5 linked regions of the Homo sapiens genome follow. The protein of the gene in region 4 interacts with the protein of the main gene of each other region in a pairwise test. Each region holds a gene or a part of one and is shown on either strand. Other genes may lie near its edges. The genes, in order: BEND7, ZNF84, ZNF2, SPANXN2 and COIL.

Region 1 (6,288 bases), on a different chromosome or scaffold from region 4:
GAGGGGTGTTAGGAGCAGCACTGCATTCAAAGAAGCCAACCAGAATGGGGATTTTACTTTGGAGGCAATCAAGAGACATGCTATCCAGGTGAATATCAAGATTACTTAATATTATTACTGCAAAATTTGAGCATCAATCTGAGACTTCTTTTCCTTCTTTTTTTTGAGACGGAGTCTCGCTCTGTCACCCAAGCTGGAGTGTAGTGGCGCGATCTCGGCTCACTGCAAGCTCCGCCTCCCAGGTTCACGCCATTCTCCTGCCTCAGCCTCCTGAGTAGCTGGGACTACAGGCGCCCGCCACCATGCCTGGCTAATTTTTTATATATTTTTTAGTAGAGACGGGGGTTTCACCGTGTTAGCCAGGATGGTCTCGATCTCCTGACCTTGTGATCCGCCCGCCTCGGCCTCCCAAAGTGCTGGGATTACAGGTGTGAGCCACCGCGCCCGGCCTCTTTTCCTCTTTTCTAAATGATAAACGTTTTTATTTATCATGCTGCTTAGTGATTTGTATCAAATATCTATCAATAGTTTAATGAAAAGATCTGCAAGTGTGTTATACTATTTTCTTCATTATGACCTCACAGCCTTGGGTAAAGTTTGAGAAAAGACTGGAAGAAACGAGTTTCAGCTGCAGTGAACCGGGCCGACTGACGACGAACATTTTAATTGTGAAGACTGAGACAGTGAAGAGGACTCCTAAAGGGATTAGCACATCCATCATCTCTTAGGATCTTTAAGAAACATGCAGAGAAAAGCTGGCTTTGGCTTAGGTATGAGAAAGCTATATGGTATCATGGCTGGGAGTCGAGGGACCTGGGTTCCGGCCAGGCCGTCAACCAGCTGTGAGGCCGTGGGAAAGCCACTTAATGTTTCTGGGCCTCAGGCTTTTTTTCCTGTAAAATAAAAGGACTGGATAAAAAGAAGGGATTGGACTAGAGGATCTCTCAAGTTCCTTCTCATTCTCAGATTCCTTGACATTTTTTTCAGTTCCATGAGGCTCTTCTAGCACCCTCTGACCTCAGTTTTCTCACTGGAAACGTATCTCCAACTTCAGATAGGAAAATACAAAGGCATTCCGTACTCACCACTTGGGGGTGAATATAAACTTCAAGGGGAGTGGCTTTCAAATAATAAAAGCTCACTGTGTCACATGACACAGGAGGACAGGCAGTGCAGATGGCCAGGGTGGGAGGGCACTTGGGAAGCACAGCTAGAAAGGCATGGTGCTCCCCTGAAGGGCCTTCTGAAGGCTAGGTCTATTACGATTAGGATTTCATGGATCGGCTGGGATTGGGCCCAGGTGATAAGAATGAGGCTGATATGCGTGCCCTGATATTCAGAGAATGACAAATTGGGAAGGAACAACAGAGATCACGTATTTCAATTCTCTTAATTCACAAATGTGAAAACACAGCCAAAGAAGAACAGAAATCTCTTTTATATAATGACTCTGTATGGGAAGAACTTGATGTAGGCAGGTCTTTTTGCACTATGTAGCTCATTTGATTTATCTGTCCATTGATCTGTTGCTTAGCTACTCAGTGGCAGAGAAAGCAATGTGTCTCTTACACGGCTGAATTTTCCTGTTGCTCTGAAGCTCTGAAGTTCACTAGCACAGGCCCATCCTATGCCTGCGAATGTGGCTTTCCTTGCCATTTTGGGATATGTGCTGTCAATGAATACATGGCCTAGTCAAGTTCCTACACAACCTAGAGACTCCACTAATATTTGCTGAATTTAATCAACACAGACCACCCCAAAACTAGAGGAAAAAACATTCGGTTGAACCTTTTCAGTAAGAGGGTTTTTGGGGGTACCTGGGTTTTGTGGGCAGAGAATCTTCAGATATCCTTTGGAGGGAAGTCAGTAGAGTCCTGTGACCAATGGAGGGGATACATTGTTTTCCACAAGGCTCATTGATCAGACACCTGCCCCTCTGGCTCTCAGATATGAACCCATACACAGGTAGGAAGCCAGGGTCAGAAGCATTACTTGAGAGTCAAATAACATGAAGTTGGAATTATGTCTATGGCTTAACACAACAGCGTGCAGCAAATGCTTCCATGGAAGGGTATCTTCAGCTGATCTGGTCCTGGTATTAGGAATGTGCCACTCACGCCGGATGGCTGGCCTTGTTCAAATCGCTCAGTTAAAACATAGTATTCACTGGGTGTCCACTGATTGACTGCTCAAGGCTCCAAGGCCGTTTGGAGGAGGTGGGAGAGGACAGCCTAGCCATGAATTTGATCACACAAAATTAGTGGTCCCCGTTTTAAGGTGAAATCTCATTTCACGTTAAAAATATTTTGTAATGTCCAAAGGTTTGGGGAGGCAAAATGTTATGATACTTAGTTCTTAGGATTTGCTCTTCTGAGATTTTTATGAAAATAAGAGTGTGAGAAAAACGTTTTTCTATTCAGTATGAAAAACATCTCTGAGTACGGGGCCTTGAGAAGCTCCAATGACGGGGCCTGGTCCACTGCAGAAGCAGTTTGCTCAAGTGTCTGCATGTCTAATGTTAAAATCGTTTTCAATGCAAATAGTTTTGTGGGCTGTATTTTCCAGGAGGTGATGAAAATGTAAATGCGTTTTATTTACCTGTTGGTGGTAGAGCAATGCCGTCCAGTCTTTCATCACTGTCCGCGATCTCTGCTGGTTACAAACATAAGACACAAATCTCATTAGTTCCAGGGAGCACATTCATTTTACAGAAAATAGTGATGTAATTTTAAAAACTCCAGTATACATAACTGTTTTCACCATTCTTTTCTGTTTTCAGCTACCGTTGGTTCATATTACAGATGTTAATATCATTATTTGAATATTTTTTGATGATGGTGATATAAAATCAACTTTCCCGTATTAAAACTTTTTTTTTTTTTTTTTTTTTTTTTGAGACGGAGTCTCGCTCTGTCGCCCAGGCTGGAGTGCAGTGGCGCGATCTCGGCTCACTACAAGCTCCGCCTCCCGGGTTCACGCCATTCTCCTGCCTCAGCCTCCCGAGTAGCTGGGACTACAGGCGCCCGCCACCACGCCTGGCTAATTTTTTGTATTTTTAGTAGAGGCGGGGTTTCACTGTGTTAGCCAGGATGGTCTCGCTCTCCTGACCTCATGATATTAAAACTTTTTAAAATCTTATGAACCTCATTCTATTGATCACTGATGATTTCTGTTTATTTTCACTTATTTACATAGGCTTGAATATCGAACCAGCATGTGGGGTGAATTGTTTAAATAGGGTCATCGCGGGGATGTGTCAATGAATTCCTGCTGTAGAATTTGCACTTGGCATCGCCGGAACCACTCCTGGGGGGCAGCTTAGGAAATCTTGAGAATGAACCTTTCTTTGGAGATGGCTGATTCAGATCCTAGAACTGCCAATCTAACTCTGGCATTAACGTGGTCATGAAGAAGGAATAGGCGTTGCTTCAAAAGATTCTCCATTTCTAAGTTTTAAAATGCAAACCTTCGCTCGTGTCTGATAAATGTATCCATCTCCTTGGGAGTTTTCCAAAGGTAGATCCTTCAGTCACAAAAAACCTTCTGTTACATGCGAAAAAAAAGGTGCACGTGTGTCTCTTGACAAGGGATGGGCTTGTTAGTTTCCCGTAACATGTGGGGATGGGAAAACATCACATTATGGCCCCTGGGATAGTTTCGGTGGTGGCCTCCATGGCTCAGGGCCTGTGGTCCCCACAGGCAGGCCCCTGCTGACTGCATAATGTGCGTGGGCAGCCCTTGTGAGGCTGTTGAATGAGGTCAGCCTTGGCACCATGTTGTAACACTGAGTCAGAAGCAGCCTAAACTAGTGCTACGTACTTGTTTTTATTGTTGCTTTAAACATAATCAGGGCTTAGCTACGGCTAGAAATATTGTATGGCTCCCCTGTCTCCTTCATCCTCCAACATCTTGTCCTCAGATGGACGCTCACTGGCATTAATGAAAGACCCCTTGTCTGCTGACCTGCTAGATCCACCACAAAGAGAAATCACTGAGAAGGGATGAAATATGCAAGACCAACCTAGGTTGGATTAGATTAGCAACTGCTAAAAATGATGTTGTATTTGGGAGGCCGAGGCGGGTGGATCACGAGGTCAGGAGATCGAGACCATCCTGGCTAACACAGTAAAACCCCGTCTCTACTAAAAATACAGAAAATTAGCCAAGAGAGGTGGCAGGCGCCTGTAGTCCCAGCTACTCGGGAGGCTGAGGCAGGAGAATGGTGTGAACCCGGGAGGCGGAGCTTGGTGAGCCGAGATCGCGCCACTGCACTCCAGCCTGGGCGACAGAGCGAGACTCCATCTCAAAAAAAAAAAAAAAAAAAGATGTTGTAGATGAATATTTAACAACATAAAAATATTCAAACCATGGGATAAATGGTGTGATTAAGATTCTGGAAACAGGTTTATAGAAAAAATATGGCACATACTGAAATGTTAACTGTGTTTCCCTCTGGATGAAAGGCTTTAGGTATTTTAAATTTTGTTCTATGGCTTTTAGAAATTATTTTATATATGAAAAATAATGAACATATGTTATGTTTATATTTAGAAGACATTATTTTCTTCTAATTGGTTTGAGTGAGTTGGGGACAGATGGTCTTCATGGTAGTTCTCTCACTGCCTAGGATTTTAAAAATCCTTCAATAATAATAACAATGATAATCACCATGTATTAAATGCTCACGGGGCACTTGACATGCAGTGTGTCGCTGAACCCTTAGGACACTCTACAAGGTGGGTCTGTTGCTCTGCCCATCTTAACACATAAGGAAAGTGAGACAGAGGTTGGGAAACTCACTCCAGGTAACACAGCTAGTAAGTAACAATGCCAAGGACATGAGTCGCGTTAATGTCTGGGCTATTCGTCTCTTTGCTATTAATAGTCCAAACATACCATATGCATCGATATGAGCTAATTTCTTAAATCTTCGAGTTCTAGTTCATTTTATATTTTGGCAACTTTCTTTACATGTATAATTGCTTTTCATTTAGTTATAACAAGATCAGTTTTGGGTATAAACTGACCTTCCTTTTGTAATTCAGCTATCCTCCCTTTGAAAAAACAGGCCTATGCAATTATGTGCTTTAGTAAGAACAGAACATATATAACCAAAAAAATATATAGATGATTATATATAAATCAGAACACGCTAGCTGCATGAATAGGGGCTGAGAGTCAAGGAGGAAGGCACTGTTGTGTTACTCAAATTTAATTATAACATCTATCTGCAACAACAAGCTCACAGTCTTTCTTCCCCGGTGACAATCAAGTTGGTAAATTTGGAAAAGATTGAGCAAGTCCAATAAACATTTAACAGCAGTGACATCTTTACTCTGAGATCTAACACGATATATTGTGATTTCAGCTCTGAGAAAATCATCTGATGGCAATGATAAAAATGCACACCAGGAAAGGAATCACTGGAGCTATAGAATAAAAATTATTCCATGTGACGACAGCCCCAAATGAATTTCTATTTGGATTTGCATAACGGCCTTTCAAATCTGTGTGGGGCACTTCTTTTTTTCTAGAGGCAGTGCAGGCTTCCTTAAGTGGTAGCCAATTAGCTTGTGGAGTCAGAATCTCTACCTCATTCCAGGAATGGAGCCAGATATGACAAATAAGGTGGAAATTGTGCAATCTCTATGAGACACTGTTTGTATTATCATTTAGACTGAAAATCAGACAAAAAGCATGAGAGCAGGTAATATTATTGATCCAGACCTCTCGGTTCCTATCGGCATCATGGAAGGAAATACAAGTGGTTCTAGTTTCAATTTGCTGGGGCCCCACTTCTGTGCCCTAGAGGAGAATGATGTGGAACAGGATTTGACAAAATGGGGAGACAAACTGTATTTGGCAGGTCATTGCTGATGTGCTGTCATTTGGGTCTGCTTGTCAGGGTTGGTTTTGTCTTACAGCCACCTTCTACTTCTCAGTTGTTAATAGAACCTGCTAGGAACGCAGAAGAGAAGGGCCAAGGGAGCCGATCACAAGTATCTGGGCAGATCATCTAAACCAGTGGTCAAAAGTTACAATGTCCAACATCAAATATTCTGATGTCTAAGGGGCAGGAGCGGGCAAGTGAGTGGGGACTCCTCGAGGAGGGGAGGGGTGGGGAGCAGGCTGTGGCTTGGGTCTCATCCTGTAGAAGTGGGCAAACCTGGGGGGAAATGGGCATTTGTGATGGGAATTATTAATAGAAATGAGACATGGTTAGGGGATGTGTTCCCTGGCCAGTCTGCTTGGGGGAAAGAGAAGAGGGATGTGGCGGCACATCCCTAC
Region 2 (6,288 bases), on a different chromosome or scaffold from region 4:
TGTATTTTAGTAGCCCTTATTTTACTTAATAATGGCTCCTAGACATAAAAGTAGTGATGCTAGTAATTCGGATATACCAAAGAGAAGCTTTAAGTGAACAGGTGAAAGTTCTCAACATAACGAAAAATACAGGCTGAGGTTGCTAAGATCTACAGTAAGAACAAATCTATTCATGAAATTGTGAAGAAGGAAAAATAAATACATGCTAATTCTGCTGTCACACCTCAAACTGCAGAAGTTATAGTCTCAGTGTGTGGTAACTTGTATTACACTATGTTGTCATAATTGTTCTATTTTATTATTGTTGTTTATTTTTTACTGTACCTAATTCATAAACTGAACTTCACCATAGGTATGTATGTGTAGGAAAAAAGCGTAGGCTTTATAGGGTTTGGTTCTATCTGGTTTCAGGCATCCACCGGAGTCTTGGAACATCTCCTTTGTGGATAGGTGGGGGCTACTGTGGTGGGTAATGTTCTCTAGAGAAACGCTAATAAACGCATGAACCTTACGGCATTTTTCATAGCGTTCTTCAGAGTATGTCCCAAGGGTAGAATGCCAGAGCAGGACTTCATGACCATAATTATTTACTTTTTACCTTTTTAAACTGTAAGGCCTAATTTACATGCAGAAAAGTATGTTTTAAAAAATACAGTTTGATGAATTGTTATCAGTGGAATATGCATGAAATCACCACTCAGATCAGGAAATAGAATATTCTTAGCCCAGATGAGTCCCTTCATGTGCCCTCTCCCAGTCGTCACAACCTCTTCCTCCTGACAGAGGTAACCAGGATCCTTTTTTGGTCTCCATTTCCTGACTTTATAGTTCTGCTCCTATCTGTGCGTTCTTAAACACTATATTTGATTTTGTCTGCTGTAGTGTGTGCTCATTTTATTTATTTTGTCTGTTGTAGTGTATGCTCACTTCTGTCTTCTTTCACTTCACATTTTGTGGCATTCACTGCAATTGCAACTGCAGTCCTTCCCCCAGTTGAGGTGGCTTCTTTATTTTTTATTTTTTTTTGAGATGGAGTCTCACTCTGTCACCCAGGCTGGAGTGCAATGGCACAATCTCAGCTCACTGCAACCTCTGCCTCTAGGGTTCAAGCGATTCTCCTGAGTAGCTGGGACTACAGGCGCACGCTCCCACGCCTGGCTAATTTTTTGTATTTTAGCAGAGACGGGGTTTCACTGTGTTGCCCAGGCTGGTCGCGAACTCCTGAGCTCAGGCAATCCGCCTGCCTTAGCCCCCCAAAGTGTGTGAGCCACTTACAGGTGTGAGCCACTACGCCTGGCCAACATTTTTTAAATGATCATTGCATAGATGGATTATTTCATTGGGAGTTGCAAAATGGTGACAGGTTACTTTGATCATTTCTTCTTGATCAGCTAGAACACTGCTTTCCAGCATGACAGAATCTATCAAGGCACAGGTTTAATCTTTTTGTCCCAGACCTGCCGTTAGCCATTTCTACAGTAAATGGTATCTGAAATTTTGTTATTTGAAAGAATTTTCTTGCCAAAACATGGAAATACGCAATATTTTGGCATATTGACTTTGTATACGGGAACTTATTTTTTTAATTTTTTTATTTTTTTTGAGGCAGAGTCTCACTCTGTTGCCCAGGCTGGAGTGCAGTGGCACAGTGTTGGCTCACTGCAACCTCTGCCTCCCGGGTTCGAGCAGTTCTCCTGCCTCAGCCTCCTAAGTACCTGGGATTACAGGTATGCCACCACACCCAGCTAATTCTTGTATTTTTTTTTTTTTTTCCAGTAGAGATGGGGTTTCACCATATTGGTTAGGCTTGTCTTGAACTCCTGACCTTGTGATCCACCCGCCTCGGCCTCCCAATTACAGGTGTGAGCCACCACGCCTGGCCAGGAATTTCTTAAGCTTACTTATTAGTTCTAATGATTTTTCTTTAGATTTGATTAGATTTTTCATGTTAACAAAAACATCAGCAATAACTTTTTTTTTCTTTTTGTTTTAAGAGACATGGTCTCACTCTGTCACCCAGGCTAGAGTGCAGTGGCACAATCATAGCTCACTGCAGCCTTGAACTCCTGGAATCAAACATGCCTCCCACCTCAGCCTCCCAAGTAGATGGGACTACAGGCACCTACTACTAAGTACAGCTAGTTTAAATTTTTTTTTTTTTTTTTGGTAGTGACAGGTTCTCACTATATTGCCCACGCTGGTCTGGAACTCCTGGCCTCAAACAATTCTCCTGCCTCACCCTATCAAATAGTTGAAATTATAGGCATGAGCCAGCACACCTGGCCAGATCATTTTAAGTAAATGTTTGGAAGAATCACCACTAAAACTACATAGATCTTGCATTTTTTTTGAGGGAAAGTTTTAAAATTGTGGGATCAGTTTCTTTAGCAGTTACAGGATTAATTCAGATTTTGTTTCTTCTTGTTACTTTGGGTTCATTGTTTTTCAAAGAATATAGCTATTTGGCCAGGTGTGGTGGCTCACACCTGTAATCCCAGCACTTTGGGAGGCCGAGTAGGGTAGATCACGAGGTTAAGAGATTGAGACCATCCTGGCCAACATGGTGAAAGCCCATCTCTATAATAATACAAAAAATTAGCCGGGCGTGGTGGCAGGCGCCTGTTATCCTAGCTACTTGGGAGGCTGAGGCAGGAGAATCGCTTGAACCTGGGAGGTGGAGGTTGCAGTGAGCCGAGATTGCGCCACTGCACTCCAGCCTGGGCAACAGAGCAAGACTCCATCTCAAAAAAAAAAAGAATATAGCTATCTCGTCTTAAGTTGTCAAGTATGTTGGCATAAGTTTGTAATATCTTTTTAACAGCTTTATTGAAGTATGACCTCAATAAGATCCACCATTTTAATGTATAATTCATTGATTTTTAAGTAAACTTATGCTGTATAACCATCATCACAATCTAGTTTTAGAAGATTTTCCTCACCCCAAAACAATCTTTGTGACATTTTTGGTCAATTCCTCTTCCCACCCCAGCCTAAGACAATCATTAATTTGCTTACTCTCAGCTGGGCACGGTGGCTCACACCTGTAATCCCAGCACTTTGGGAGGCCGAGGTGGGTGGATCACCTGACGTCAGGAGTTCGAGAGCAGCCTGGCCAACATGGTGAAACCCCATCTCTACTAAAAATACAAAAATTAGCTGGGCGTAGTGGCAGGTGCCTGTAATCCCAGGTACTCAGGAGGTTGAGGCAGGAGAATTGCTTGAACCTGAGAGGCGGAGGTTGCAGTGAGCTGAGATTGGGCCACTGCACTTCAGCCTGGGTGACAGAACAAGACTGTGTCTCAAAAACAAACAAATAGAAATTAAGTGGGTGTGGTGGCATGCACCTGTAGTCCCCATTTCTCAGAAAGCTGAAGTGGGAGGATCACCTGAGCCCAGGAGGCAGAGGTTACAGCGAGCTATAATTGTGCCACTGCACTGCAGCCTGGGTGACAGAGCAAAACTCTGTCTCAAAAAAGAAAGAAAGAAATTTGCAGTTATCTGAATTGCTGTTCCCTTTAAGTGATGTGATTTTTTTTCTTTCTGGCCATTTATGATGTGTCTGGGTATGGATTTCCTTATGTTTATTGCCTGGCATTCACTGAACTTCTTGAATTTTTTGGTTTATATATTTTGCCAGTTTTACAGAATATTCAGCTATCATTTCTTGAGACTTTATTTTCACCATGCTCTTTCTTTTCTCTTTCTGGGACTCCTATGACACTCACATTAGAGTCTTTGGTATTATTTGATAGTGTCATGAGCTCTGTTCATTTTTAAGTCATTTTCTGTCTGTTCAAAACAGTTTCTGTTGATCTGTCTTCAAATTCTCTGACTTCTCTTAAAGTATATTGTGTGCTGTGAGGGTCAAATTTATTTTTTGATTTTCTGGTGGCATTCTAGATTTTTAAAAGATGTGTGCTTGTGTTTTCTTTTTATCTTAGGAGACTTTGAGACAGAAATCCATCTTGATCCAAAATCTAGTCACCTTTCTAAAATCTGTTTGGTTCTATCATTCCCTTTCTTGTAAGGTCTTTGATGGCTAACTTGGCAACAAGAAAGTGTCCTAGCTAAGCTAACCACATTCTGCCCCAGCCCCACTGTGGCCTTTAATCTCATCACTATCCCATTCCCTATTATCCTGTCAGACTGATGTTTTTGTATCTCTTCAGTCCTCACAGTTTTTTTTTTTTTTTTTTTTTTTTTTTTTTTTTTTTAAATCAGAGCTGCTGCCTCCCAGAATGTCTTTGCATCCTCTTTTTTTTGTGGAAAACAACTAATTTTCTAAAACCCATTTCAATTTTACCTTTTCCGTAGAGCCTAACTCTACACTCAAATAGAGTGAAGTGCTGCCTGCTTTTTATCCACACTGTGCTCTCCTTTATTTCTTAGTTACTATAAGTTTATTTTATTTGTAAGTGCATATTTGCAGCCCTCTGTAAGACAATGCGACTTTTGAGAGTATTATTTTATTATTTTCCTTCTTGGTATTTTAGTGTATTGGTTTGTTTTTGAGATGGGGTCTCACTCTGTCACTCAAGCTGCAGTGCAGTGGTGCAATCACAGCTCACTGACGCCTCGACCTCCCAGGGTCAAACAGTCTTCCCATCTCAGCCTCCCAAGTAACTGGGACTACTGGCATATGTCACCATACCCAGCTAATATTTATATATATTTTATATTATATATATATGATATTTATATTATATATATTTATATATTATTTTTAATATAATATTTATATTATATATTATATTATTTTTAATATAATATTTATATTATATATTATATTATGTATTATATTATTTATATATATATATAATACAGGTCTCACTGTATTACTTAGTTTGGTCTCAAACTTTTGGGCACAAGTGATCCTCCCGCATTGGCCTCCAAAGTGCTGGGATTATAGGTGTGAGCCACCTTGCCTATCCTATTTTCTTTCTTTTGCTACTACCTCTTCCAGTGCCAAATTTGAGGTTCAGTAAAGATTTTATTGGTGGTTCAGGGGGTTTAAAGTCACCTATTCCAGTTTGCGTGTCTTCTGTGAAAGTTGTCAGAATCAAAATGGAGTCACTAGTGTTAATTTTTTTAACCCCTACAGGTAGAGCTTGGGAAGCCTGTGAAAAAAGTGTTCTCACACTTGCATGCCTGATAAAAATTATCACAAAAGACTGCAAAAGCCACAGCCTCGTACAAAGGCCATTGAAGCCTTACACAAAAAATACTTTTATTGGGACATCTGCCCAGCAGCTGCCTGTCCAGCTTTGGACTGGTGTCACCCTTGTTATTGATCTTTGTAGCCAAGGATAACTGTTTCAAAACAATTATGTGATGCACCTCATTTTTTTCCTTTAAAAACTTTTGTCTTTCTTCCCATCTAAGTACTAACCAGGCCCGACCCTGCTTAGCTTCCGAGAACGGACGAGACTGGGCGCGTTGAGGGTGGTATGACCGTACTGGCTGTAGACACCTTCGTCTTTCTTTACCTCCCTGGATACACATGTAGTTTACTATGGCACCTGTCTTCTCATGGCAGTACTCTGTTCCCAAACAAACATCATTTTCTTCTGGAGAGGCTCTCTTTAATCTTTAGGTTAACAGTTGTATAAATGGAAGGATGGAAGAATGCACAATGACATTTTATCACACAAAATATGCAAAGGTAGAGACATAGTAGGCATTTTGTATAACTTGTTATGAGAATGAAGTGCTAAAGCTCCAATATTTTTTTCTCACATCATACGGTGTTAACTGCTTCAGATTTACCAGGATTGTGCTCTTACAGGAGTCATTCTCATTTGACGATTTATCTGTGGACTTCACCCAAAAGGAGTGGCAGCTACTGGATCCCTCTCAGAAGAATTTATACAAGGATGTGATGTTGGAGAACTATAGCAGCCTAGTGTCACTGGGTAATAAAAGCTTTCTTGAGGACCTTGGACTATGCCCAATGCATTGCCTTTTATTTTTAGTTGCTGGGAAGTTTCAGAAGCCTATAGCTAGGCTTCTGAAATTTTTAATGATTTTAGACCTGAAACTTAGATCACAGTTGCTTGGACTATGACACCAAGAAAGTATTTGGGTCTCACCTTTCAATAATGAAGTTGTAAGTTTGTCATGCAGCCTCTGAAACTTAAGTAGTAATAGTTTGAGCAGTAGTGATAGCACCTAATGCATATAACTTACTATATGCCACATCTTATACCAAGTGCTTTACGTATATCAACTCATTTAGTCATCAGAGCAATCCTATGTGGCAAGTACAGTCATTATCCATTTTTCCTGATG
Region 3 (6,288 bases), on a different chromosome or scaffold from region 4:
GGGTGCCTGTAATCCCAGCTACTTGGGAGGCTGAGGTGGGAGAATCACTTGAGCCCGAGAGGTGGAGGTTGCAGTGAGCCGAGATGATGCCATTGCTCTTCAGCCTGGGCGACAAGAGTGAAATTCCGTCTCAAAAAAAAAAAAAAAAAGTAGTTTTCAAGCATGCCATTTCAGGTGTGTGAGGGGCAAAAGCTGAAAAACAGGGACTGGAGAAGAGTAAGTGGTAACAGTGTGGAGTCAGTAGGTTATTATTCTCCAAAAAGTTTGATCATGAAAGGACAACCTAAATGAGAACTGCTTTGCTAGAAGGAGGTCATGGGATTCAGTGAAAATAGTTTCAGGTAGAGGAGGCTTGTATGTCTTTGAAGATGTTGAAAGAAAGTGCTACTGGGGTGGAAAATGCTGGAAGAAAAAAAAAAAAAGACTGGGGTCTGGGCGCTGTGGCTCATGCCTGTAATCCCAGCACTGTGGGAGGCTGAGGCAGGCAGATCATGAGGTCAAGAGATTGAAACCATCCTGGCCAAAATGGTGAAACTCTGTCTCTACTAAAAATACAAAAATTAGCTGGGCATGGTGGCCCGCGCCTGTAGTCCCAGCTACTCAGGAGGCTGAGGCAGGAGAATCGCTTGAACCTGGGAGGCAGAGGTTGCAGTGAGCCAAGATCGTGCCATTGCACTCCAGCCTGGGCGACAGAGCCAGACTCCGTCTCAAAAAAAAAAAAAAAAAATACTGGGAAGTGCAGGGACAAATTCTGAGAGGAAGCAATGTGAAAAACAGTGGAACCCAGGGTATAGGACACAAAGGTAAAGTCCTGGAGACAGACATTTCTGTCTTGTTGACCTCACACATCTCGCTGCCCTAGCACATAACAGCTACTTGGTACATATTCATCAAATAGTGGGATGAGTGGATGGATTGCATTGGGCAGTAGAAAGGAAGAGAACTTTATTTGTTGAATGAACTGTATGATAAATGCTTTATATTAATGGTCTCACCATTTATAACTATGCTGTGAGTTAGGTGGTAAACAACTGTTGGCTTAAGTAACTCATCCAAGGCTTCATGGTTAATAATTCCATGCTTGTGGAATGCTTTCTACCATATAACCCTGCTTCCCTTGAAACTCATTCCTGGGAATCTTTGGTGTGGTAGAAGACAAAAGTTATGCGGAAATTGAATGGTACCCATGGAGGTTTGGAATAGCCATGTAGCTAAGATGGGAGCAGTAAAAGCTTTCTGGACGATGTCAAGGGCTCGTTTGAAGATATAGACTGAATTTAGGGGACATTTTCTCCAGTGATACTCTGAGATGCAGGGATAGGAAAAGAGAACACAGAAGTGGAGGTGGTTCTTGGCTAGCAGTAACTCCCTGTGAGTTTGGTGGATTTGAGAAGTCTTCAGTGTCAGTGAGCTTACTGAAGTGACTGCTGGTGGAGTCTAAACCTAATGGGGAGAGAAGTCTACGGATGAGGAGCACTTTGGGAGTATCCACTGGTTGTTTAATAACTGGGGAGCTTATATGTTCACCACCATTTGTAATTCGTTCAGTGCTCAGTTTAATTAAAGTTGTAATCTAATAAACAAAACTTTGAAAATTGTCTTTAAACATTTAACACTGAGCAGTTTCGACTGCAGTTTTGGATATGGTTTGATTTGTTCAAAAAGCTCCAGTGCTTTAGACAAACATATACAAATACTTTGACTCCAAAGTTATTACTGCACTTACATTTAAACCTACTCTAAAATAGCAGCAACTCGGCCAGGCGCAGTGGCTCATGCCTATAATCTCAGCACTTTGGGATGCCAAGGTGGGGAGATCACCTGAGGTCAGGAGTTCAAGACCCGCCCGGCCAAGATGGTGAAACCCTCTACAAAAATACAAAAATTAGCCAGGCATGGTGGCAGGCACCTATAATCCCAGCTACTCAGGAGGCTGAGGCAGGAGAATCGCTTGAACCGGGGAGGCAGAGGTTGCAGTGAGCCGAGATAATGTCATTGCACTCCAGCCCGGGAGACAGAGCGAGACCCTGTCTCAAAAAAAACAAACAAAAAAATGCAACAACTCAGTGTAATTAATATTTTCAGTGTGTCTACCTTCCTAGAATTATAACATTACTTATTACATTACATTAGCTTATACTAACTTTACTTAGCACATTATTCTAAATGTGTTACATGTGTTACCCTATTTAAGCATCAAGATAACTGCAAGAGATATTACTTCCGTTATTCCAGTTTTGCAAACAGGCAGACTGAGACAGGTTAAGAAACTTTCCTGAGGTAGCACCGGTAGGAAGAGGCAGAGGTGGATTTTGATTTCAGGCAGTCTGTCTCCAGAGCCTGTACTCCCAATGACTACACTTTCCTGTATCTCTAAATGCTAATTTTGACTTATTTCTAGGGCCTAAGGGTAATATTTGGATACCCTCTTGTGATGGACGAATCTTAACAGACCAAAAAGGAAAAGAATACTTTTAGACAATACACGTTGCATGCTCTGGTTATCAATTGACATGTCTTTGTTTCTGTTTGTGTTTATATCTGCCTCCTCCCAGCAAGATTCAAACCCTAATCTCTCCCCGTTAGGTTGGGGGTGTTTTTTGTTTATTAGTTTTTGCTTATACTTAGCTAAACTTGTTTTTCCAATAAGTTTTTGCTTTTCACGTAGTTTTTGCAAACTGGTATTCACCCTCAAGGTAATATTCTTTTAAAATTTTGCTTGGCCAGTGTGAACCCATTGTTAAATAACCCTGAGCTGTCTGGCAACTTTTAACTCTAAGCTATAATGATTTATTTTCATGAAAAGATAGCATAGGTAACAGACCAATAGACTAGAACAGAAAATCCCCGAATATCCAAGAATATGATAGACCTGTTATAGAATAGAGTTAAATGCTACCAAACAGACCAGTAAATATCTATTGATCTGGTCTTTTGACATTTTTGAAAACTTAGTTGTTCCTTATTTTTGTGTTTGATTCATAAGTCTAGCTGTAGGGAGACATATCCTAAGGGAGAAAGGATGAAGTCTGCACAGTTACTATGCTTCTTTGGAAGCAGAGGTTGGTTCATTGTTAGTAGAGCCCATTTCTCTTTCTACTTGATACTTACGTGTGGCCCCAGTACTGATTAGTCCTCCCTGTTTGGGGTATGTAGTTCTGTATCTAGAATTACCTGGTTTATTCCCATTCCAAATTTCTTTTTACATACTTATATGAGTAGATACAAGTATCTATCCTGAGGGTACATCTATAGTCATACAATTAATAGAAAAAAGTACCTTTTTATGTAAGTAAAGTTTTAAACATTGCCTTCCTTGTATTACAACTTTTATGGCATATTTTATATTAACTTTTCTATTTTGAATATGAAACTCATAGTCCTTCAAAGTTCAAATTATTTTATTTAGCGCTAGTGATTTTTATTATTTATCTGGCCAGTGGGAGCCAGAGTCATCTGAGTTTTCTTATTCAAAGATGTGGGGTCGGCTCAAATTCTGAATGTCCAAAACTGTACTCATTGGTTTTCCCTTCAGTCCTTCTCTGTACCTTATCTCCATGAACGGCATCGTTATCCATGCCGCATTGGTAACCCGGGCGTCATCTTTGCCCTCATCACCTTCAGCCTCTTCTTCCAGCCAGTGTATTGTCTGTTTTTCTTCTTCTTCTTTTTTTTTTTTTTCCCCGACTCAGAGTCTTGCTCTGTCACCCAGGCTAGAGTGCAGTGGTGTGATCTCGGCTCACTGCAACCTTTGCCTCCCGGGTTTGAGCGATTCTCCTGCCTCAGCCTCCCAAGTAGCTGGGATTACAGGTGCCTGCCACGGTGCCTGGCTAATTTTTGTATTTTTAGTAGAAACAGGGTTTCACCATCTTGGCCAGGCTGGTCTTGAACTCCTGACCTCGTGATCCACCCGCCTCGGCCTCCCAAAGTGCTGAGATTACAGGCGTGAGCCACCGCACCCAGCCTGTCTGTTCTTAATAGCTTGACAGCAGTTTCCAACATTTCTGCTTTCACAGCTTTCATTCAGTTTGTCATCTTTCTTATTTAATTATAACACTCTCCTCAATGGTCTACTCACCTCCATTCTTTCCTTCCTGTAATCCCATCACACCACAGCCACTCAGTGTGGCGTGGCCACCTGTGTTGGGGTCCCCAGGATCACCCCAGGTTCAGGGATTCACTAGAAGGACTCAAGACTCGACCCATAGTTGTACTTCTGGCTAAGAGTATGATGATGACCCTGCAAGGATAGGCAGCCAGATCATAAGGGGAAAAGACAAGCCGGGTAGAGGAATCCGTATATAGGCTTGCTTCTATTCTCTTTCTCCCATGTGGGTGTCACATGGAGCACACTCCTTCCCCCAGCAACGAAAATGCAGCAACAAGTGTGATGTCTCTGCTCAAGGAAGCTCATTGGAGACTCAGAGCCCATGTTTTTTATTGAGGGCTAAGTCACATAGGCACCGTCTGCCTAACACATACCAAAATTCCAGACCCTCCAATAGGAGAGCACATGTTCACCATAAACGACATTGTTTGCACAAATAGTTTAGGCATAGTAGACCACCGTTATCTCTTAGGGAACTGGGGAACCCTCTCAAAATCGAAGTTTCCAGCTGCCAGCGAAGGGCCAGCATGCAAGCAGAACTTTCTAGGAATAGCAGTCTCAGGTCTGCTGTGACTTTTCTGCACACCACCCTTCTTTCCTTCCTGTTATTTTTTTCTGTACACCAAAATAAGGACTTACTCTTGTTGAAAAAAATATATGAAGAATGGTAAGAAAATAAAAATAACTTATAACTCACCACTCAAATTTCATTTACATTTTATTATGTGTTTTTCCTTTTTCTATACATAATGTGCATGTACAAATATGTAATTTTAAAAGTGTGCATTCTTCAAGTGTTTTGAATTTCTTTGTGGTTTTTTTTTTTTTTTTTAGATGGAGTCTCACTCTGTCACCCAGGCTGGAGTGCAGTGGCGTGAGCTCAGCTCACTGCAACCTCTGCCTTCTGGGTTCAAGCAATTCTCCTGCCTCAGCCTCCAGGGTAGCTGGCACTACAGCCACGTGCCATCATGCCTGGCTAATTTTTGTATTTTTAGTAGAGACGGGATTTCACCATGTTGGCCAAGCTGGTCTTGAACTCCTAACCTCAAGTGATCCACACGCCTCGGTCTCCCAAAGTGCTGGGATTACAGGTGTGAGCCACTGCACCTGGCCGTTCTTTGTGGTTTTTTTTCAGTTGTTGATTTTTTTTTTTTTTGTAAGAAACAAAGCATTACAGATAAAGCTGAAGTATCCTGGGTATCCTTCCCCAGTCTTATTTCCCTTTCTTCTCAGATATGTACACATTTGCTGCTTATTGTCCCATGTGTTAATAGATTTTTGTAGGTATTATTTACCTGTTTTTAAATTTTATGTAAATATTATACAGTAAGTCATTCTATAACTTATTTTTTGCCCAGTAATTATGTTTTTGTAATTTATCTCTGTTAACATGAGATAATGTATAATATTCATATATAATGTATAATACACATATTCATATATAATATTCATATATGAGATAATGTATATATATTCACAAATCCTTTATCTGATTAATGGACATTGAAGTTGTTTGCAGTTTATCACTAGTGATCTTCTCCCCAGTGACTTGTAATGCCACCTCAGTCATACATCAGGCTTCCCTAATGTTTGGATATGTTTTGGGATTTTCTGTTCTAGTCTATTGGTCTGTAATTGATGTGGCTATCTTTTCATGAAAATAAATCATGGTAGCATGAAAGTTAAAACCTCCCAGGCAGACATGGTTTCAAGTTCTACCTCAGATTCTTACAAAGCCTTAATTTCCTAATCTGTAAAATAGTGCCTACCTTATTGATTTATGAGGATGGAGTTAAATTAGCCTTATAAAAAGCACTTAGCACAGTACCTGGCAAATAGAAAATACTCAATAATGCTAGTTGTTATTAAGATGATGGGTTTTTTTGTTTTGGTTTGGTTTGTTTGAGATGGAGTCTTGCTCTGTCGCCAGGCTGGAGTGCAGTGGCACGATCTTGGCTCACTGCAACCTCCGCCTCCCAGGGTCAACCAATTCTCCTGCCTCAGCCTCCCAAGTAGCTGGGACTAAAGGCACACGCCACCACGCCCAGCTAATTTTTTTGTATTGTTAGTAGAGACTGGGTTTCACCATTTTGGCCAGGATGGTCTCCATCTCTTGACCTCATGATCCGCATGTCTTGGCCTCCCAAAGTGCTGGGATTACAGGCGTGAGCCACCGTGCC
Region 4 (5,937 bases):
GCTTGGCAAAGTTCTAAGGAACGCCACAATGATATTCCACTGGAAAAAGGGCCAAACCACCTGATCATAAGAACATCTTATCAATATCCTGCCGGATAGCATCCCACATTGCCCAGATCCCTCCTGCCCATCCCTGTAAGTACCCCAGCCTGTAAGCGGCGGTGGGCTCTGGCATTAAGCTTGTCCTCCACTTCCATAGGTGTCTGCCATATTCCTGTGTTGCTGTTTGAGCTGCCCCCTGTGTGTCTTTCTTTCATCCTTGCCTTCCCTTCAAAACCTAACATTTTGGTGCCAAAACCTGGAGTGGTGATTGGGTTCTAATGGGTAAGTTTTCTCTTGCAACCTGGAAAGCAGCAAGCAGCACAAACTAGACCAGGGCCTGCTTCCAGATCCTGAGTGTACTCCCTGTTCCCAGTCCCATTCTCCTTATTCTCTAGTCTTCTCCAGACCTGGGCTAACCTCCAGATAGTGATCAAACAAGCCACCTTATTTTTTGTTCCTTCCTGTTTCCGGGCAGCTGCAACAAGGATCACCCCCATTTCTGGACATCACATCCAACACTGGGCTTCAATTAGTGGGTGAGTCTCCCTCTTCCTCCTTTCCAGATTCCTCTCTATTTCTGCCCGTTCTCCAAAAAATTCCAGTGCTGGGTGAGAGGTCTCCCCAGTCACCAGGTGACTGCAGCCTCCCTTCTTAGGGTACACCTTCAAAACGTTTGCCACTCTGGCTGCTCTGGCCTCTGGGGAGCATGAATAGTACGGGGCTGCCCCAACTCTCCAGGTCCCTTCTCCCAGGAGGAATCAAGTACTCACTTCCCTATGGGGTATTCACTTCTCTCTGGAGTACTCGCTCACCCCTGGGGTACTCACTCCCTTCCAGGGTACTCACTTTCCTCAGGGGTAGTCACTCCCATCCAGAGTATTCACTCCCCTCTTCCAAAAAACAAAACATTCAACTTCCAAATTCAACATAATCTAAAAAACTTTCTTCAATGCAATGGTAAATAATCTGAAGTGCTTTGCTTATCTCCTTTCATGCCTCACTCTCTCTCTCTCTCTCTCTCTCTCTCTCTCTCTCTGCCAATCTTGTTCACCTTTTCAAATCTTCCTCCTCAAGGAGAAACCCCCCAAAATGCCTCTTCCTCCGGACAAGTCTTCTTCCTCTGAATTTCAACCTGGCCAACACACCCGTTCTTCAGCCTCCTGCCCTCTCCCATTCCCTCCACCTTCTCCTTCGGATCCGGCTCCTCCACCCCCTTACTGTCGCCCTCCATCCCCCTTCCTTCTCCACCTCAAACCAGGTCTCACACCCAACCCCCTTTCGCTAGGAACCAGGCACATGCCCAAAGGCCTTCCAAAGTCCTTCCCTTGCAGGAGGTTGCGAGGGCTAAAGGCATAATCTGAATTCAAGTTCCCTTCTCTCTAGCTGAGTTTTCCCATATTGAAAGGAGACTTGACTCCTTTTCAATGGATCCAACCTCCTTCCACAAGGAATTCTTGTACTTCCCTAAATCTTATGACCTTACCTGGCATGACATATATGTCATCCTCTCCTCTACCCTCACCCTGGAGGACAGGGAACACATCTTTATGGGTGCCCAGGTCCATGAGAACACCCTCCACCAACAAGATGCTGCTCATAATCCAATAGGGACCCTAGCTGTCCCCAGAACTGGCCCCAGTTGGAATTATCAGGCAACTTCAGTAGACAGACAGAAATCAGGCCATATGATATCATGCCTTCTAGCTGGCATAAATAAAGCTGTCCCTGCTCGTTTCCTCTCCTGCCTTTCAAAAGTCACAACTAAATATGCCACCTTAAGCCCTAATACCAATAAGGGCAAAAACTACCTCCATTTATACTTTATCTCCCAGTCAGACCCAGACATTTGAAAAAAACTTAAAAAACTGGAGGGTGGCCCTCAAACCTTCCAAAGAGACTTAATCAAAGTGGCCTTCAAGATCTATAAGATTAGAGAGGAAGAACTAAAAAATCCAAACCTAAAGAAGGACCAGGCTAAATACCAAATGCTGGTAGCTGCCACTCAACAGGGTTCCCAAGGCCTACAGAATTCCTCAACTTGGCAACAGTCAACTCCAGGAGCCTGTTACAAGTTCGTCTAACAGGGACACTGGGCAAAAGCCTAGCCTAATCCCAGGACACTCTGGAAATCTTGCCCCATCTGTGGTATCAAGCAACACTGGAAGTCAGACTGTGCTCACTGAAACTCTTCATCCTGCTTCACCACCTGTACCTGAAGACAGGTGGGGCCTGGAGTCCACCGCCCCTACTGCCATCACCACCTCGGAACCCAGGGTAATTCTGTCAGTCTCTAGTAAGCCCATGTCTTTCCTATTGGATACTCAATAGGACAACTAGTTACTCAGTTTGACCAGAATATTCTAGACCCTTTTTCTGTTCTTCGATCTCTATTGTGAGAATCAATAAAATCCCCTCTAGGCACAGACTGGTCCTTTATTATACAACCTATTCAGCAGCCCCCTTCACCCACTCTTTCCTGGTTATCCCTCAGTCCCCTACCCCTATCTTGGGATGGGACATATTAAGTAAATTCCAGAACTCCATGCAATGTGGCTCCTACAATTCTACCCCTTTTATTTTACTCTGACACCCAAACGCTTCCCTCTCCCCCCACTCATCCTCATTATCCACCCTGTTACCTTCTGTTAATTCTAAAGCTTGGAATGTTTCTAAACCCACAATAGCCACACATCACATCCCAGTTAAAATAACCCTTCAAAACCCCTCCATTTTCCTTCATCAGTCTCAATATCCCCTTAATCCAGCCTTGCTTAGGGGGTCTCAAACCTATTATCTGTAAACTTTTACAAGCTCATATTCTCAAGCCTGTTAACTCTCCCCACAACACCCCTATTCTGGCTTTCCAAAAGACAGACGGGACTTACCCCTTTGTCTAGGATCTCCAAGTCGTTAACCAGGCCGTGGTACCAATCCATCTAGTGGTCCTCAACCAATATACTCTACTCTACCGTATTGCCCCATCTACCACACACTCCTTTGTATTGAACTAAAAGACAACTATTTCACTATTCCCTTAAATCTGGCTTACCAAAGTCTTTTTGCTTTGACTTGGTCAAATCCTAATACTCACATGTCCTGTACTCTTACAGGACTTACACATGGACTTACACCTAGACTGTACTCTTAGAGGGGTTCCGGGATAGGCCCCACCTGTTCAGACAGGCCCTCATCAAGGACCTAGCTGAACTTCCCCTTGCTCCTAGTACCCTCCTCCAGTATGTCAATGACCTCCTTCTCTGTAGCCCCTTTCTTAACCTGTCCATTCAACACACCACTCAGGTTTTAAACTTCCTTCATAATCAAGTATATTGGGCCTAACCCACAAAATCTCAGGTACCCAAATCAAAGTTACTTACCTTGGGTTTGTTCTAACCCCTAATTCTCGAGCCATCCCAACCCAATGAAAGGAGCCAATTTGGGACATGCCCCTTCCCCACATAAAAAAAAAGGACCTCCCCTCCTTCTTGGGCCTTGTGGGATACTTCTGGCTGTGAATTCCTAACTTTGACTTGCTGGCCAAGCCACTATACGTAGCCTCACATGGGCCCATCCTAAAACCCCTGAACCCAGCTTGCCCCATCAACTCCAACTTAAAAACTTAAAAATGCCCTTTTAATGGCCCTGGCACTGGGACTGCCAAACCTCACCAAGCCTGTTACTTTCTATGTACATTCTGACCAGCGCCTTGCCCTTGGACTACTCTGCCAAACATATGGCAACGCCCCAGAAGCCATTGCACGCCTCTCAAAACAACTGGACTCTGTCATCCGAGGCTGGTCACTCTGACTAAAAATCTTGGGTATGGCCACATTGCTGGCCTTAGATGCACGGAAACTCCCTCTCTACCAACACATTACTATTGCATCTTCCCATTATCTACAGGACCTCATAAACCACCAATCCCTTCTATCCCTCCCACCATCCTGCTTACAGCAGGTGCATGCCTTATTCATAGGTAACCCTCTAATCACCTTCCAGAGACATAAAATTCTCTACCCAGCCACCCTTCTCCCTGTAAACACTTCCGACTCTAAGCTCTCTCACTCCTGTCTGGACCTCTTAGACTCCCTCTCCTCCCCCTTCCAACACATTTCAGATGCCCCTTTGCAGGGAACACATACACGGTTAGTTAATGGAACCTCTTTTAGGCAGCCATGTCCAGCAGCTGGCTATTCCATCAGTGCTGAAGATAAACTCCTAGAATCGAATGCTCTCACACCCCATGCTACCTCTCAACAGGCAAAGCTAGTTGCCCTAACCAGGGCCCTCACCCTAGCAAAGGGAAAGAGGGTCAACATTTACACCCATTCCAAATATGCATACCATGTCCTACAGTCTCATGCCTTCATCTGGCAGGAACAGGGTTTCCTAACTACAAAAGGAACCCCCATAAGAAATGGCAAACTTACACATAAGCTGTTGGGGGTGGATAAACCACCACCAAAGGCCACCATTATCCATTGCAAGGGACACCGAAAGGCTACAGATGCCAAAACCGAGAAAAACCTTTCAACAAATTCGGCAGCCTGGCAGGCAGCCCTTAAAACCCCATCGTTATTGCTCATTTTTTTTCCCAGCATACACCCTGTATATACCCAGCAGGAAAAAAACCCACTTGCCCAGGCTGGTGCCATTCAGGAAAAAATAGTTCGATCTCACTGATAAAGTGTCTTGCCCAAGTTTAAAAAACCTTCTGTACTTTCATATGTGCACAACCATTTCCATGCCGGTTACTGCCCCTACTCCAGCTTTTAAAAACTTCTAGACATTCTTCCACCATGGTTGCCCATCTCAGAGATATTACTAAGGCATGTTCCCTTTGCACTCAAACTTCCCCTCAGGAAGCTATCAAACCATCTCCTTTCCCACACACCAGACCTGAGGACACTTACTAGGGCAGGACTAGCAAATCAACATCACTCACATGCTCCCCAGAAAGTGATTCCTATACATTCTAACAATAGTAGATACATTCTCTGGATGAATAAAAGCTTTTCCTACCACCACCAAAAAGGCACACACCATCGCTTCTATTCTCTCCACCCATATTATCCACCGGTTTAAACTCCCCTCTTGCATCCAGTCAGACAATGGGCCAATTTGTTTCAGTTTAACCAACAGCTGGTAAAGGCTCTAAACATTAAATGGGCTTTCCATATTCCTTACCACTCCGAATCTTCAGGAAAAATTTTATAAAAAACAACAACTAACCAAACTCTCCTTAAAGGTTAAAATGGCCTGGACTTCACTTCTCCCATTGTTCCTCATGCGATTATGAGTCATTTCCTAAAAGCGCTCAGCCTAAGCCCATTTAAATTCATGTACAAATGCTCCATTTATCCTCCAGAATCTCCCTGTATTTTCCCCCCATTCTATATGGAATACTTGGCCGGCGTTACACCTCACCCAACATCTAATAAGACAGTACGCAAATGCTTACTTGACCCAGCCTAAAAGTCCATCCTCAAAACACTCCTCCCTGTCCCTACAACCAGCGGGCTGGGTCTGAATCACAGACTCCTCCTCCCCCGCTCTCCAACCTAAGTGGAGGAATTCTCACCAGGTGATGCTAACTACTCCCACAGCGCCAAAGCTAACATCCTTTGCACACTGAATGCACATTTCAAACTAAAAAGAGCACCAGATCCACATCTAGAAATTTGTTCACCCCCAAATTATTCTCCTTCCCTGACAAGACCAACCTCACTGTACTTAACAAGAATTCCAGAAGTTGCCAATCCAGAACACCTTAGTCCATAACACTCTCTGTCTCCAGTTTCCAATCTTTTGTCTCCTACTTTATTTCAGATCTTTCCTGGTTTCCCTTCCCCATGACCCTGAATAGTCCAGGCCAATTTGTCACACTAATCAAGG
Region 5 (6,288 bases), on a different chromosome or scaffold from region 4:
ACAAACATCAGGCTGGGCACGGTGGCTCACGCCTGTAATCCCAGCACTTTGGGAGGTCAAGGTGGGTGGATCACAAGGTCAGGAGATCGAGACCATCCTGGCTAACACAGTGAAACCCCGTCTCTACTAAAAATACAAAAAATTAGCCAGGCGTGGTGGCGGGCGCCTGTAGTCCCAGCTACTCGGGAGGCTGAGGCAGGAGAATGGCGTGAACCTGGGAGGTGGAGCTTGCAGTGAGCCGAGGTCACACCACTGTACTCCAGCCTGGGCAACAGAGCAAGACTCCGTCTCAAAAAAAAAAAAAAAAAAAAATACAAACATTAGGTAAGTATGGTTGGTGCATGCCTGTGGCCCAGCTACCTGAGGTAGGAGGATCACTAGAGCCCAGGAGGTCCAGGCTGCAGTGAGCTGTAATTGCGCCACTGCTGAAAACACACATTATACTTACAAGGCATTTACATTCAGCTATATATTTCATCAAGTTTTTTCAGTGGCCAGGGAAAGATGTAGACAATCATATTTGAAAATAAAGAACAACTGGTGAATGATAGGAGCATATGTGACAAGCATTCTTTAAATTTTTTAAGGCATAGTAATCCTGTGGATTTACCTCAATGCGGTAGTTGAAAAAAATCCTCAATTATTTGTCAGAAAACTAACTATACAGACAAACAAATCAAGATAAAATAAGAGTTACTGATATCAGGAGTAGGAGAAAGAGACAAATAAAATGCTGAGTGACCAGGGATTTTAAATTATAAAAACACATTCCCCTCTGTTCCCAGCTTGGCATCTAATAGCAAGGAAATAATTCTTAATCTGGCAAAAGCCAGTTTGGCATCCTGTGAATCTAAGAACTACCATGGAAGCGCTACAATATCAGATTTTTTTCTTGACATTTCTGATCAATTTGTTTTCACTTGTAGCAATGATCCAAGCTTCAATTCTGAGATGACCAAATAGGACCAAACTTTCTGTCAAATGTTGAAAATGGTTGCAAGTCTCTGTTCAGTCACTGTGGTTTATTAAGGCCCTGGAAAACAGCACATGTAACATCCAGTTGATGAGAACCCCTTCCTTTCCTGGAAGCTGGCAACACCCTCACGCCTTCCAAAACAGCTCTTAGCATCGTCTCATCCATTCTTAAGACCATGCATTGGCCGGGCGCGGTGGCTCATGCCTGTAATAATCTCAGCACTTTGGGAGGCTGAGGTGGGCAGATCACAAGGTCAAGAGATCGAGACCAGCCTGGCCAACATGGTGAAACCCAGTCTCTACTAAAAATACAAAAATTAGCTGGGCATGGTGGCATGCGCCTGTAGTCCCAGCTACTCGGGAAGCTGAGGCAGAAGAATCGCTTGAACCCAGGAGGCAGAGGGTGCAGTAAGCCAAGATCACGCCACCGCACTCCAGCCTGGCGACAGATAGAGACTCTGTCTCCAAAAAATAAAAAAAAAAAGACCATGCATCTACAGCTATTTGGCTTGAAGGTATGACCTGTGATTCCTGCAGCCCCACTACCTACTGTTCCCCAAGAGAATAATTTCAGTTTTTAAAATATTAAGATTATAAACTGGTGTGGTGGCACATGCCTGTAATCCCAGCTACTCAGGAGGCAGAGGGAAGATCACTTGAACCCAGGAGTTCAAAACTAGCCTGGGCAACACAGTGAGCCCTCATCTGGGAAGAAAAAAAAAAAGAAAATATTAAGATTGAGAGGCAAAATACCATCCAGAGAAAAAGAAATGGTTCTCCTGGGTCTGCTTAGTTACCATTCCTGTCAGGTGCACCTTCCCTGGCAATATTCTCTATTTCTTTACCTGGATCACAGACAAAGAATAGAGCTATCCTTTTACAAACAAAAGTGCATGCATTTGTCCTTTCACAAGTAGAAGTGAATTACCTAGGTCACTAGTGACGAAAGAGTTGATTCCAAAAAACAGATCCCCACTTTTCTTTTTTCGAGATGGAATTTTGCTCTGTCGCCCAGGCTGGACTGCAGTGGCATGATCTGGGCTCTCTGCAACCTCCTCCCCTTGGGTTCAAGCGATTCTCCTGCCTCAGCCTCCCAAGTAGCTGGGATTCCAGGTGCCTGCCACCACGCCTGGCTAACTTTTTGTATTTTTAGTAGAGATGGGGTTTTGCCACGTTGGTCAGGCTGGTCTCGAACTGACCTCAGCTGATTCGCCCGCCTCGGCCTCCCAAAAGTGTTAGCATTACAGGCGTGAGCCACCATGCCCAGCTATCCCCACTTTTCATTCTAACTCTTTGCAAGGCAAACTGAGTGGTATTATCAAAATCTAAGTCCACCCTTAAAATCTACAATTTACTGTCTAGGATTCTGTTATGCAGAAACACTGACATGCCCATCTGTCCAACCTGATGCTCCCTACCCATTGCCTGCCAAGGCCAACGTGAATGCCTGGGTTCAAATGCTATTTCTGCCACTGTAATTTTTTTTAAAATCATTACCTCAGCCTTTCTCATCTATAAAAATGGGGATAATGACAATAATTACAGTACTCAGTGACTTATTATGCAGAGAGAGCATGCCTGACTCAGAACAAGTGATATCCAAATGTTAGCTCTAATTTTTATTAGTACAATGAATGTTGTTAGTCCTATCATGGGTAAGTTGGTGAATTTTTAAAAGTTGTACAAGTCTGTACAACTTTTCTGGAAGCTAATTTGACAGTACTTATCAATTTTTATATGTACCTTCTCTTAGACCAATGAGTATTTCTTCTAAGAATAAATCCAACTGAATAATTTTCCAAGTACAAAAAAAATACAAGAATATTCACTAAAGCACTATGTAGCAAACAGAAAAGAATGACATACATCACACACTTTATATACTGAGATAGCCCATGATAGGTAAAAAAGCAAGGTGCAGAACAGTATGTTATGATATTTGTAGTTTAAAAGTATAAGTACATATGGTTGCACATGTATAGAAATCTGGCTCTAAGATATACCCCATACCCCAAACTTAACCAAGGATACTTCTGGAGAGTGAGGTGTGGGAAAAAGTATATGATAAAAGTAGTAGGAAACTTTTTATCTTGGACTATCCAAGGAGCCACTAACTACAGCAATATGAAATGAGAACTCGTCTCTAATATTTTGTTTTGTTTGAGATGCGGTCTTGCTCTGCTGCCCAGTCTGGAGTGGAGTGACACGATCATGGCTCACTGCAGCCTCAACTTCTGAGGCTCAAGTGATCCTCTCACCTAAGCCTCCCAACTAGCTGGGACTACAGGCATCCATCACTGAGCCTAGCTAATTTTTTTTGTTTGTTTTTTGGGGTTTTTTTGGTAGAATAAGGGTCTCCCTGTGTTGCCCAGGCTGCTCACAAACTCCTGGACTCAAGTGATCCTCCCACCTCGGCCTCCCAAAGTGTTGGTATCACAGGCATAAGCCAACATGCCTGGCCCATCTCTAACATTTAATCAATGTGTTTTTTTGTTCGTTTGTTTGTTTGTTTTTTGAGGTAGGGTCTCACTCTGTCGCCCAGGCTGCAGCGCAGTGGCACCATCTCAACTCACCGAAGCCTTTACTTCCCAGGCTTAAATGATCCTCCCACCTCAGCCCCTCAAGCAGCTGGGACTACAGGCATGTGCCACCATGCCCAGCTAATTTTGTTGTATTTTTCTGTAGACATGGGGTTTCACCATGTTGTCGAGGCTGGTCTCGAACTCCTGAGCTCAGGCAATCTGCCTGCCTCAGCCTCCCAAAGTGCTGGATTATAGGCATGAGACATGGCGCCCAGCCTTCATCAAGTATTAATTGCCAGAGTTAAAAGGGTCAGGGAAGACAGAATGCACTGTTTCCTTACAGAATTGATTCTTCAAAAGGGAGTTTCTCAGGCCGGGGGCAGTGGCTCAGGCTTGTAGTCCCAACACTTTGGGAGGCCAAGGCGGGAGGACTACTTGAGCCCAGGAGTTTGAGACCAGCCTGGGCAACTTAGTGAGACCTCTCTACTAAAAATAAAAAACTGCACCTGTAGTCCCAGCTACTCAAAAGGCTGAGGCAGGAGGAGCCCTTGAGCTCAGGAGTTCGAGGCTGTATAAGCCAAGGTTGCGCCACTGCACTCCAGCCTGGGCAATGGAGTGAGACCCTGTCTCAAAAAATAAGGGAGTCTCTCTGAATCTACTGTAATTCTGAGGGCTGCACGATTAAAAAAAATTTAAAAATTAATTAAAAAAAATTAAAAACCGCCAGACACAGTTGCTCACTCCTGTAATCCCAGCACTTTGGGAAGCTGAGGAGGGCAAATCACTTGAGGTCACAAGTTCGAGACCAGCCTGGCCAACATGGTGAAACCCCATCTCTACTAAAAATACAAAAAAATTAGCCTGGCATGGTGGCGGGTGCCTGTAATCCTAGCTACTCGGGAGGCTGAGGCAGGAGAATCGCTTGAACCTGGGAGGCAGATGTTGCAGTGAGCCAAGATCGTGCCACTGCACTCCAGCCTGGGCAACAGAGTGAGACTCTGTCTCAAGAAAAATAAATAAATTAATTAATTAATTAAAATAAAATAAAAAAACCAAATCTGCCAACACCCTGATCTTGGACTTGTAGTCTCCAGAAGAGTAAGAAATAAATTTCCATTTTTTAAGCCATACAGTCTGTGGTATTTTGTTATAGCAGCCCCAGCAAACTAACACAGGGGGCTCCAAGCCAATAGAAGCACCTCCTCCTCCTCCCAGGACAGTTAGAGACCACCTTTAGGAACTCGCTGTCAGAAACCTGGGGGCAGATGAAGCCAGATTCCTGGGGCTTAAGAGAATGGGCTATGAGGAAACAGCAGTGGAACACAAGTGTGTGGTGCATCCAAAGCCTCAAAGGCTGTTTCTCAGGATTCCCACAACCTAGTTCCACTTTTCCTCATTAGCCTTCTCAGTACTGCCAATGATCCCAACAGAATGCTTTGGCTGGTCAGACTCATCTTTTTACCAAGTCCAGCCAGCTTTTGTCTCTATAACTGTGCTTTGATCATCCAACATTTCCCACCCATTCTTCAAGGTACTGCTCAATTCCCTAACCATTTTGTTCCATGCTGATCTCCCTTTTCTCAACCAGCTTCTGCACTTACCATATAACTTGGTCTAACTATTCAGTCTAATTGTCTGTATCACAGAAGGTAATATACAAAAGCATGAGACTCATTATTTGGGTCCCAGTCCAACAATATTGGGTACTTTGAGAATAGAGACTATGTGTTCTTCCGTAGCTCTGAAGAAAAGTGAATTTGCCAGGGAAAAACAATGATTGTGGACATAAAACAACAAAAACAAAGACGAACTTTCCAGATTCATCTTTTTCTACGGTCTGCCCATTTGCCACTGAAGCCACTAGAGAGGTATTTTTTGCCACATGCAGCTGTGCATTTGAAGCATTTAGGAAAGATTTGCCTGTCATCGTGTTGTAATTATTACTTATAACAGTTTTCATGGTTTGTTTTTGTCATTGTTAACTTCATTATGAAGAATGTAATGCCCACATGATTCATTAAAGTATAATTATAGTTAGCACAAGTTATTAACTCATTAGGCAAGAGACAGTTCAGAAAGTAAACTTAATAGGATGGGACACAATCCTTAGAATTGTAACATTTAAATAATCCTTGAATTGCAGAGAGAATAGAGACCTATTTCACAGTCAATAAAAAGGGGGAAAAAAAACTCTTTGAAATTTGGATTATTTCAAATTGTCATTTGAAACAGTTGAACATTATTCAATAAATCATAATATCCTGATTTAAAGATGCAGTTACTGTTCCAAATTAAATTCCCTGATGTTCTGAAGAAATCTTACGGAATCTGACATGCTTGAGGGTAAGGAATATTCAACGACAAAGGGCAGCAAGAGAAAATAGCCTGGTTCACAACTCTGGAATTAATTCACTGTAGCTGAAGCTTAAAGGGGGTGGGGGAAGGAAGGCTGGCACAGTGGCTTACGCCTGTAATCCCAGTGCTTTGGGGGGCTGAGGTGAGAGGACAGCTTGAGCCCAGGGATTCGAGACCAGCCTGGGCAACATGGCGAAACCCTGTCTCTACAACAAATACAAAAATTAGCCAGGCGTGGTTGCCTGGCCTGAAGTCCCAACTACTCGGGAGGCTGAGGTGGGAGGATTGCCTGTGCCCAGGAAGTCAAGGTTACAGCAAGCTATGATCGTACCACTGCACTCCAGCCTGGGCATGGGAAACCCAGTCTCTTTATTTAAAAAAGAAAAAAAAAAGTCTGAATAAATCAGTCCAAGATATGAATCCAAACTGGAATGAT

What was found.
Region 1: the proteins of SPANXN2 (region 4) and BEND7 interact in binary tests that used the Homo sapiens proteins (3 or more experiments, as listed by UniProt).
Region 2: the proteins of SPANXN2 (region 4) and ZNF84 interact in binary tests that used the Homo sapiens proteins (3 or more experiments, as listed by UniProt).
Region 3: the proteins of SPANXN2 (region 4) and ZNF2 interact in binary tests that used the Homo sapiens proteins (3 or more experiments, as listed by UniProt).
Region 5: the proteins of SPANXN2 (region 4) and COIL interact in binary tests that used the Homo sapiens proteins (3 or more experiments, as listed by UniProt).

The regions. Positions count from the first base shown.
Region 1 is NC_000010.11:13,444,668-13,450,955, forward strand, and holds part of BEND7 (BEN domain-containing protein 7), read right to left. Parts: intron 2,653-6,288; coding exon of another isoform or gene 2,650-2,652; coding exon 2,599-2,649; exon of another isoform or gene 1,875-2,598; coding exon of another isoform or gene 1,864-1,874; exon of another isoform or gene 1,420-1,863; intron 894-1,419; coding exon of another isoform or gene 880-893; exon of another isoform or gene 1-879.
Region 2 is NC_000012.12:133,042,170-133,048,457, forward strand, and holds part of ZNF84 (zinc finger protein 84), read left to right. Parts: intron 1-5,785; coding exon 5,786-5,912; intron 5,913-6,288. UniProt on the Homo sapiens protein: May be involved in transcriptional regulation.
Region 3 is NC_000002.12:95,167,716-95,174,003, forward strand, and holds part of ZNF2 (zinc finger protein 2), read left to right. Parts: intron 1-6,288. UniProt on the Homo sapiens protein: May be involved in transcriptional regulation.
Region 4 is NC_000023.11:143,712,851-143,718,787, forward strand, and holds part of SPANXN2 (sperm protein associated with the nucleus on the X chromosome N2), read right to left. Parts: intron 1-5,937.
Region 5 is NC_000017.11:56,953,120-56,959,407, forward strand, and holds part of COIL (coilin), read right to left. Parts: intron 1-6,288. UniProt on the Homo sapiens protein: Component of nuclear coiled bodies, also known as Cajal bodies or CBs, which are involved in the modification and assembly of nucleoplasmic snRNPs.